Linked DNA regions of Homo sapiens. The protein of the gene in region 2 purifies or fractionates together with the protein of the main gene of each other region. This does not show direct contact. Each region holds a gene or a part of one and is shown on either strand. Other genes may lie near its edges.

Region 1 (4,764 bases), on a different chromosome or scaffold from region 2:
AACAGATGCCAGAGAATTTCCCATATTCTCACTGTGAAAACAGACAATAAGGTGTAAGGACCTGAACCCTCATGATAGGCCAGGCAGGAGGAGCTGCTCTGAATGGGCCTGACTGAAGTCCACCCTGTGACACCAGCCACCTAAAGACCTGTGTGAGGCTGGGCGCGATGGCTCACGCCTGTAATCCCAGCACTTTGGGAGGCTGACGCAGGCTGATCATCTGAGATCAGGAGTTTTGAGACCAGCCTGGCCAACATGGTGAAACCCCATCTCTACTAAAAATATAAAAATTAGCCACATGTGATGGCGTGTGCCTGTAATCTCAGCTACTTAGGAGGCTGAGGCAGGAGAATCGCTTAAACCCGGGGGGTGGAGGTTGCAGTGAGCCAAGACGGTGCCACTGCACTCCAGCCTGAGTGACAGAGCAAGACTCCATCTCAAAAAAAGACCTGTGTGCTCATCACAAAGTCCTTTGCACTACAGCAGGCCTGCATGCCCCTCTTGCCCTGGTTTTCTGGAATCGTTTTTACCTGCTGCACCTCCTCTACTCACTATCTGCAAAACCCCGTCAGTTGTCTGAAGTTTTCGTTGAAATGAAAAGGAATGCCTCCTAAGGAAGTGTGGAATTTCTGTGTCAATGTGCCCTGGCCTGAAAGTAAATGAACACCACAACAGAAGACAACTATACTTCAAAGAATCTAAGGTGCTTATGACTGTAAGTCTGCCATAATTTTATGTACCACAAGAGAAACATGCTGCCAATTAAAGTGTGACATGCTATGAATTGTAAGATGCATCCCAGCTTCAAAGACAAAAACTTGAAAAAAATGGTATAGCTGGCTGGGCGCAGTGGCACACGCCTGTAATCCCAGCACTTTGGGAGGCTGAAGTGAGTGGATTGCTTGAGGCCAGGAGTTGAGATCAGCCTGGCCAACATGGAAACCCTGTTTCTTTTTTTTTTTTTTAATTTTTTTTGAGACGGAGTCTTGTTCTGTCGCCCAGGCTGGAGTGCAGTCGCGTGATCTTGGCCTATTGCAAGCTCCGCCTCCCAGGTTCACGCCATTCTCCTGCCTCAGCCTTCAGGGTAGCTGGGACTACAGGCACCCACCACCACGCCCAGCTAAGTTTTTGTATTTTTTGTAGAGATGGGGTTTCACTGTGTTAGCCAGGATGGTCTCGATCTCCTGACATCGTGATCCACTTGCCTCGGCCTCCCAAAGTGCTGGGATTACAGGCGTGAGCCACCGTGCCCAGCTGGAAACCCTGTTTCTACTGAAAATACAAAAATTAGCCGGGTGTGGTGGCACACGCCTGTGGTCCCAGCTACCTGGGAAGCTGAGGCACGAGAATTGTTTGAGCCTGGGAAGCAGAGGTTGCAGTGAGCCGAGATCACACCACTGCACTCCAGCCTGGGTGACAGAGAGAAAGAAAAAAGAAAAAAGTGTATAGTTTAGATTTAATGAAATTTGGTAAATCAACAGATTCATCACCAATAAACAGGTTCACCTTTACCACTGAGGTGAATTAAATTACATTTCACAAAGGAGACATTCCAGTGGCATTGGGTGCAGTGTGAACAAGCTTATTAATTCCAAACTGTAAGCTATCATAATCAGCCAGTGCATGAGGCTGGAGCAACTGAAGGAAGACCTGAATTTATTCCGCGAAAAAGTGGAGTAAGTGGATCACGGCTGGAGCTTGGGCTTAATAAGCAAAAAACCAAGAATTGCCAAATGACAGAGAACCCCCATCTAGCTGCTTAGGTGGTTCTCTTCTTAACTCCTTTTTTTGGTGAGATAGGGTCTCACTCTGCCACCCAGGCTGGAGTGTAGTGGTGCCATCACAGCTCACTGCAGCCTCTACCTCCTGGGTTCAAGTGATCCTCTCACCTCAGCCTCTCAAGTAGCTATGACTACAGTCATGCACCACCATGCCTAGTTATCTTTTTTTTTGAGACAGTCTCCCAGGCTGGAGCGCAGCAGGATGATCTCGGCTTGCTGCAACCTCCACTTTCTGGGTTTAAGCAATTGCCATGCCTCGCTTGCCCGAGTAGCTGGGACTATAGACTATAGGCACATGTCACCATGTCCAACTAATTTTTGTATTTTTAGTAGAGGTGTGGTTTCACCATGTTGGCCAGGTTGGTCTCGAACTTCTGACCTCAAGTGATCTGCTCGCCTTGGCCTCTTAAAGTGCTGGGATTACAGGTGTGAGCCACTGTGCCTGGCCCCTTGCTTTTTGTAGAGATGAGCCTGCACCATGTTATCCAGGCTGGTCCCAAACTCCTGGACCCAAGTGACCCACCAACCTCGGACTCCCAAAGTGCTGGGATTACAGGTATGAGCCACTGTGCCCCGCCTATCCTTTACTCTTTTCTTTTTTCTTTTTGAGACAAGGTCTCACTCTGTCATCCAGGCTGGAGTGCAATGGTGTGATCTCAGCTCACTGCAACCTCCGCCTCCTGGGTCCAAGGGATTCTTGTGCCTCAGCCTCCCGAGTAGCTGGGATTACAGGCGCACACCACCACGCCCAGCTAATTTCTTTGTTATTTTTTTGGTAGAGACGGAGTGTTTCACCATGTTGGTCAGGCTGGTCTCGAACTCCTGACCTCAGGTGATCTGCCCATGTTGGCCTCCCACAGTGCTAGGATTACAGGCGTGAGACACCGCACCCAGCCTCAACTCTTTTTTTTTTTTTTTGGAGACAAGAGTCTTGTTCTGTTGCCCAGGCTGGAGTCCAGTGGCACGATCTCAGCTCATTACAACCTCCACCTCCCGGGTTCAAGCAATTCTCCTGCCTCAGCCTCTGGAGTACCTGGGACTACAGACGTGCGCCACCATGCCCAGCTAATTTTTTTTTGTATTTTAGTAGAGACAGAGTTTCACCACATTGGCCAGGATGATCTTGATCTCCTGACCTCGTGATCCACCTGCCTTAACCTCCCAAAGTGCTGTGATTACAGCCATGAACCACCGTGCCCAGCCAAAACTGTACTTGTCTCCTTCAAGCTGGAATCGAACCAGCAACCTAAGGACGTCTCCTACTGAGGAAGTAGCTATAGTCCTCTGCTCTACCAGCTGAACTATTGAAGGGACCTTAACTCTTGATATCAGAATTCAGTCTTATTTTTAAGATTTAAGAAAAATGGGGAAAAAAAGGAAAGGATTACTGTACAAAAATAGCATATGGCCTGCTCTGTAATTAATACCCTGTGACATCCCTCCTTTAGTCACTGCAATGGCAACAGGAACAAGTTGGTATGCCTGCGTTTGCCTACCTTAAAATGTTAACCAAGGTTCTGTGCAGATTTAGGTATTCTGCTGTGTGAACTCATTAAAGCGGCACAAAAGCAGCAAGTGCACCCTGCTCACCAAAGGTAATGTAGCCAATGTTGTCACCCACAGCGGCGTCTGTGTCTTTCAGCTCCAGAGGAGGTTCCCTGTGGCTAAAGAGGACCTGTGGGGCTGTGTGGCTGGCTCTGCGTCCTTCTTTGAACTCCTGCCAAGACAAAGCAAAAGCAACCAGAAGAGAAGTGGGTGTAAGATGAGTGGCAACTCAAGCTATAGGGTTTGTTCTATGTGGTGTGACCTTTGTAGCCCTCCAGACCAGCAGGAGGTTAAAAATAAACTACACCAAACCTGAAATATGACAAGTGCTAGCTGCTACCACTACACTTCAGATTCAAACGGGAGAGACTGCAAAGTACTTAATAAGTCAGATCTTCAAAATGTGATGAAAAGTAGTGATAATCCTTTTCCTTTGCACTAACATAGGTGATAAACTACCATACTTTCTCTGGGCTCTGGGACTTTGCATGAGTCTTTTTTCACTGAGGATCCTGTTGCTATTTAGAATTCATCAATAAAATCTTTAGAGCAAACTTAAGCTCTTCTTGCGGACAGAAGACAATGGAATGAAAGAAGCTGAGTTGTCTTGGTGCTCATAAAGGAAGCCCTTCCTTCTATGTTCCAATCTCCAAACCTGAAGCTTCTACAGTCCATACATTCCTATGTAAATAGACAAGTAATACAAGGCTTCTCTCTCTCAGCCAGATCTGCAAGAACAGAAGTAGATTTTCTAGCAATGCCAGTAAAACTGGATAATCCAAATTCATCAAGTGGGCCTTCCAAGATGATAGACAGCAGGAGGATGCTGCCAAGGACTCTCCAAGGTCTCTTGTTTTAGGAGTTCTGAAGGCATGGTTACACAGCCATGTGGCCTGCGTGCCCTTCTACTGCTGCTCAAATACTGCCTCCTAATACCATCTCCAACAAACCCAGGCAGGTACTGCTCTCTTGCTGGAGCTGCCATGTCTTTTCTACAAACCTCTACTATGATATTTTACCATTCATTAATGTATCTGGCTCCCCTACCAGGTTATGAGTTCAAATCAAAGATCCTGCTTAATTTATCTTTGTAATTTATTCTTCTGTCTTTCAAAGAGGCTATGCAGCACATGCCTTGCTGAGAGAAAGCAAGTGCTTCTACCCTAGCTGGTTTAGTATCATCACACTGTACAGGAATAGGCAAGGGCTGTTTCCAGTTGCAGGCAGGAAGAATAAACACTGATTAGCAAGCCCTCTCGACAATTAGTGGCAAAAGAAAGATGATGGCTGAGGAGCCCCAATGCCCAGCCTGGGACCTCACCTATTTCACAAACTGCCTCTCATGCTAACACTACCAAGCTTTAAGTAGGAAAAGAAATGACCATCAACTGGGTTAGATTAGTCCCCTTTTGAACAGATTTTGTTCCCCGAAGGAAAA
Region 2 (5,336 bases):
TCTATATGTAATGTTCATGAGGAAAAGAGAAAATAGCTTGGCTTATTTTCTTACCAAATTGTTGTTCTTAGTATCTTCTAGACGTTCCAGAACTGATGTCAGATTTGGGTCTTCAGAATCCACAAACCATATCGGTGAAGAAGATGGATAGGATTCCTGTTTAACACAGAGACACATGTTAAACATTTACATACAGACTAACCCAAATATGCAATTAAACCACACCACTAAACGGCAAGATGACCATGGATTTAAACAAAATGTATGGGGGGAAAAGGCAACATATTAAAAACCTTGTGAGGAGCTGGACTTTTGAGACAACCATTCTCCTTGCATAGCACTGTCTGTTGCTACAGCTCATAGAAGTCAATGATTTTCTTCAACACTGGTAGGCAGCCTCTAAAATGGCCCCGATCACCATCACCTCCTGGCATTCACACCCTTGTAAAATTCCCGCCCCTGGACCTAGTGACTCACTTCTAACAAAGAGAATACAGCAAAAGTAATAACATCACTTCTGAGATTAGGCTACAAAGAGACTATGATGTCTGCCTTGCCCATCCTTCTCCTGCTCTTTCCATTGCTCCCTCTGATGGAAACCAGTTGCCATGTGATGAGGTGCCCTATGGAGAGACCTACATGGCGAGGTATTATAAAAGGCCTCAGACCAACAGCCATCCAGAAACGGAGGCCCAGTCCCACAGCCTGTGAGATGAATCCTGCCAACATCTACATAAGTGAGCTTGGAGACTGATTCTCTCCCTATCCTGCCTTAGGATGATCACAGCTGCCACCAACAACTTCGCTGCCTGGTGAGAGGCCAAGCCAGTGAACCCAAGGTAAATTGCACAAAATCCTGACCCACAGAAATGGTGAGATAATGTTTGTTGCTTTAAGCTGATAAATTTGTTACAGAGCAATAGAAAAGTAATTCAAATACCATAAAATTCTAATGTTTTAATCTATCACACAAACCAAGTACTACCAAGAAATGCCATTACTACATATATATACACACATACATACATACATACATATATATATATATATAATTTTTTTTTCTTTTTTTCCTCGAGACAGAGTCTTGCTCTGTGGCCCAGGCGGAGTGCATGGCACAATCTCGGCTCACTGCAACCTCCGCCTCCTAGGTTCAAGCGATTCTCCTGCCTCAGCCTCCCGAGTAGCTGGGATAACAAGCACATGCCACCACGCCAAGCTAATTTTTTGTATTTTTATTAGAGACGGGGTTTCACCATGCTGGCCAGGCTGGTCTTGAACTCCTGATCTCGTGATCAGCCCACCTCAGCCTCCCAAAGTGCTGGGATTACAGGCGTGAGCCACTAAGCCAGGCCCATATCTTTTTTAAAACACAATTACATGTGATTTCTTTAAAAAGCTAATGAACTAAGCATTATGTGCTTTCACCCACTAACAGACATTTACTCTGTTACTTTGTATGATTTTCTATTATAAATTGGGGAAAAGCCATTATTATCGTATATTAGCTTCAGAACAACTAGGTTCAAGTCATGGAAAACAATTTCACAGAAACGATTTTAGGAAACACTGCTTTGAGAACTATAATCTGATTTATAGCTGAAGCCACAGAAACTGAATATTTTTAAAGCATTTTACCAAATGTTCTTTTAAGAATAAGTTGTATTGATGGAGGACATCATTAATAGTATACCTGGTCAATAATGGGTTATTTACTATTTTCATTCCTCTAACTCTTACTGTGCCCCAAATCTCTTTACAGGCTAAATGAGAAACTCTCCAGAATTAATCCTGTTCTTAACACCACTTATTGAGTACTGCATTTTCTTCTTCAAATTCTTCAGCACACATTGGGAATACACCATCTGGACCATTTTTACTGTTTTAGTTTTTAGGTTTCTTTTCCCTTAGGCTAAAGAAACTGCAACTACACTTAGGATCTCATTATTAGGTTAGTATTTGTCTAGTAAACTTCAGCATAAGCCAAGAAACATACATGTCTTCACTCTGGACTGAAACCCCTCAAAACCATATTAAGAAAATTACAAAAACAATTAACTGAAATCATGTTTTTAATCTTGTAGATGAAAAGATATGATACACTGTAGATCTAAGTACCTATTTCAATGGTTCCCAAAGTGGGGACCTCAGACCCCCAGGTCCAAACTATTTTTACAAGAATACTAACATGTTGACATATGCTGTAAGGGTGCAGATACAATGGTGGGTAAAAACGCTGGCACTTTAGCACAAATAAAGGCGGTAACACCAAACTACTAGTAGTCATGGTATTCTTCACTATGCACAGGAAAGGCTTAAAAAGGAAGGGCAACAAAAGGTCAGTTTCATTTAAGAATGTCTACGATAAGGCTGGGAATGGTGGCTCATGCCTGTAATCCCAGCACTTTGGGAGGCCGAGGCAGGAGGATCACTTGAGCCCAGGAGTTCAAGACCAGCCTGGCCAACAGGGTGAAACCCCATCTCTACAAAAAAAAATAAAAAAATTAGCTAAGCATGGTGGTTGCACGCCTGTAGTCCCAGCTACTAGGGAGGCTGAGGCAGAAGGATTGATTGAGCCCAGAAGGTCGAGTCTCCACTGAGCTGTGATCACGCTACTGCACTCCAGCCTGGGTGACAGAACAAGGCCCTGTCTCAAAAATAAAAAGAATGTCTATGATGAAGCAGTGAAAATTTTACTACATCTGAATCCTTGAATATGTCTTTTTAATATTTCAAGTGATGAAACGGGAAGTATACATGAGCATTCCTACAGACTGCCTGAGAAAAAACCCTTGTGTGACTAAGTCATGAAGTGAATTAACCACTTAAATGGAATACCATTTTTACTTGAAAGGATAACTGACGATGTTATTTCAACTTGGGTTTTTGGCAGTCATTTTCCTCAAAAAATGAGATTCTGTCATTTCAAGGAAAACAACAGACAGGCCATAATAAATTTCAATAATAAAACTGCTAATAATAAAATGCAAGTTTTTGAACAAAAAATTAGAATTTTTGAAAACTTGTATCCACCACCGTTTTCCAAGAATATCCTGATAACATTGATGGCAATATTGATGAATGTATTTTGATACTGTAAAATCAAATGTATCAACATTTAGAAGATCTCGGTGAACCACTATTTTCTAAATGACCAATGCATGATGTTATAATATCATACAAGGGTAAAAGATCCAAAGTTCAAGAAAGACCAAGTTTTGATAGAGCATCAAAAAAGAAGCCTAGGCAACATGGCAAAACCCTGTCTCTACAAAAAAATACAAAAAATTAGCCAGTAAGATGGCCTACACCTGAGTCCCAGGAGACTGAGGGTGCAGTGAGCTGTGATCACACCACTGCACTCCAGCCTGGGCAACACAGTGAACCCCCATCTCAAAAAAAAAAAAAAGAAGAATATCCAGGATTATCTAAAATGGCCATTAAAATATTCACAATTTTTCCAACCAGGTATCTGTATAAGGTTGGATTTTGTTTACATTATTTCAAGCAAATAGCATACAACAAATTAAATGCAAAAGCAAATGACAGAGCAAACATCAATGAAATTTGCAAAAAATTTAAGACTGTGCTACTATTCTATTTTTTGGCTTAGAAAATTTTGTTTCGTAAAAGCACATTTATAATAATATGTGATGAGTTTTTAAAGAGTTAATGTTTTAAATATTTCTGATTTAACTTGTAGTGATAAATACCAATAGACGTAACTTACATAAACCAAAGCCCTTAAGTGCTGAATATATTTTCAAGAGTGTAAAGGAGTCCTGACCCCAAAACTTTGAGAACTGCTGCCTTCCCCTCCACTTTCCTTCCTTCCTTAGAATTCTTTCCTTGGAAGAAACATCCCTTTGCCATTCTATATTAACTTACATAGTTCCATTGAGACCAGTTTTGCTACCTCCCTCCCATCTTTCCTCCTCCCTCTCTTGACACAAAACCTGACCAAAGGACTCTACCAGCCCACCCCATTTCCAGTGATTAGCTGTCAGGTGGGCTAAGCCAAGAAAATCTGGGTTTTCCCTGAAGCTAGACCTCTAGTTCTGGGAGATCTGGAATCACAGGGACAAGGATGGCCACCTTGGGGTGGTCAGAATTCATCTTGCCTACACGTAAGGAGTAAGTTATAACACGGATCTACAATATTGTTGAGTGAAAAAGCAGATTACAAAAAAATCTGATTTTTTAAGGGAGAGGGAACACACATAAGCATCGGAGAAAAGAGATGAGCAGATAACTGGAAAGATACAAAATTCTGATAGTGGTATATTCTGAGTGGTAGAATCATATCTCCTAGTTTTGACTAAATTTCTTTTAATGTCTTACAATAAGAAGGTTTTGTTTTCCATATTATAAAATATCCACCACGCCAGGAAACTTAACCTTCAGCACAAACTCTACATCATGTTCAAGGTTTGTTCAGTTTAACATTTAAGAGAGAATCTACTTTGAAAGACATCTAAAATAATGACCAATATTTAAACCTATGTATTAATATTTTCAATCTTTCACATGCTTTAAGTTTTGTAATTTTGATAAGGTTAACTAAGCTTTATATCTATCTTGAAAAGATAAGTTTGCCTACTATTTCTCTTTAAAATAAATATGACCTATGGTATATCAGTTTTTAAACAGTGAATGGTGCTCAAAAATCCCAATACAAATTCAGGCAGTTTTCCCGTACATAGAATGTTTAAGTGCTTCTAGCACCACTCTTTTTCACCACAGTTATGAAAACACAGAACAATTATCTAAGCATCTAATTACTCAGGTCCTTTGTTCCTCATCCATTCTATTAGTTTTATAGTAATTCTAAGGCCTGTGAGAATGAAGTTGTCTGTGAAGCTACCATAAACATTACTGTAAGTGGACAAATTTCAAACAAGTTCATCACCACTACCATCCCCACCATAAAACTGTCTTAATGGAGGGAAACACAACTCAAGATTAACCAAACCAACCTCTTTACCTGTCACTGCTCAAGAAAAAGATTTTTTTGTCTTATTTAGAAGTAACTTTCTGTATCTATTTTTCTCCATAAATCCACTGAGACCATTGTGTGGCTCTATCTCAAGCACCAGCAACCAAAACTGGTTGACCAGAATGGTCAGTTTTTGTATCTTTCCAAATGTAGGACACAGCTATCTTCAGGGATTTCATCATTTTTTTAAAACTGATGCACAAACTTCTGGAAGGTTCAGAGATAACAGCAGTTGTAATTCTTCTGAAGGCCAGTTATGGGACACATTACTTTCATAGTTTGCTGTTCAATAAATGTGGGGTGGAGAACGAAGTAAATTGACAGAATTAGCATATAGTACCTT

Evidence for each region. Proteins that work in one complex are often made in the same cells at the same time.
Region 1: the proteins of UBE2Q2 (region 2) and ARPC2 purify together in Homo sapiens (affinity purification with mass spectrometry, with the first as the bait; one study listed by BioGRID). This does not show direct contact.

Annotation. Positions count from the first base shown.
Region 1 is NC_000002.12:218,244,154-218,248,917, reverse strand, and holds part of ARPC2 (actin-related protein 2/3 complex subunit 2), read right to left. Parts: intron 3,499-4,764; coding exon 3,372-3,498; intron 3,093-3,371; exon of another isoform or gene 3,000-3,092; intron 1-2,999. UniProt on the Homo sapiens protein: Actin-binding component of the Arp2/3 complex, a multiprotein complex that mediates actin polymerization upon stimulation by nucleation-promoting factor (NPF).
Region 2 is NC_000015.10:75,849,206-75,854,541, reverse strand, and holds part of UBE2Q2 (ubiquitin-conjugating enzyme E2 Q2), read right to left. Parts: intron 157-5,336; coding exon 55-156; intron 1-54.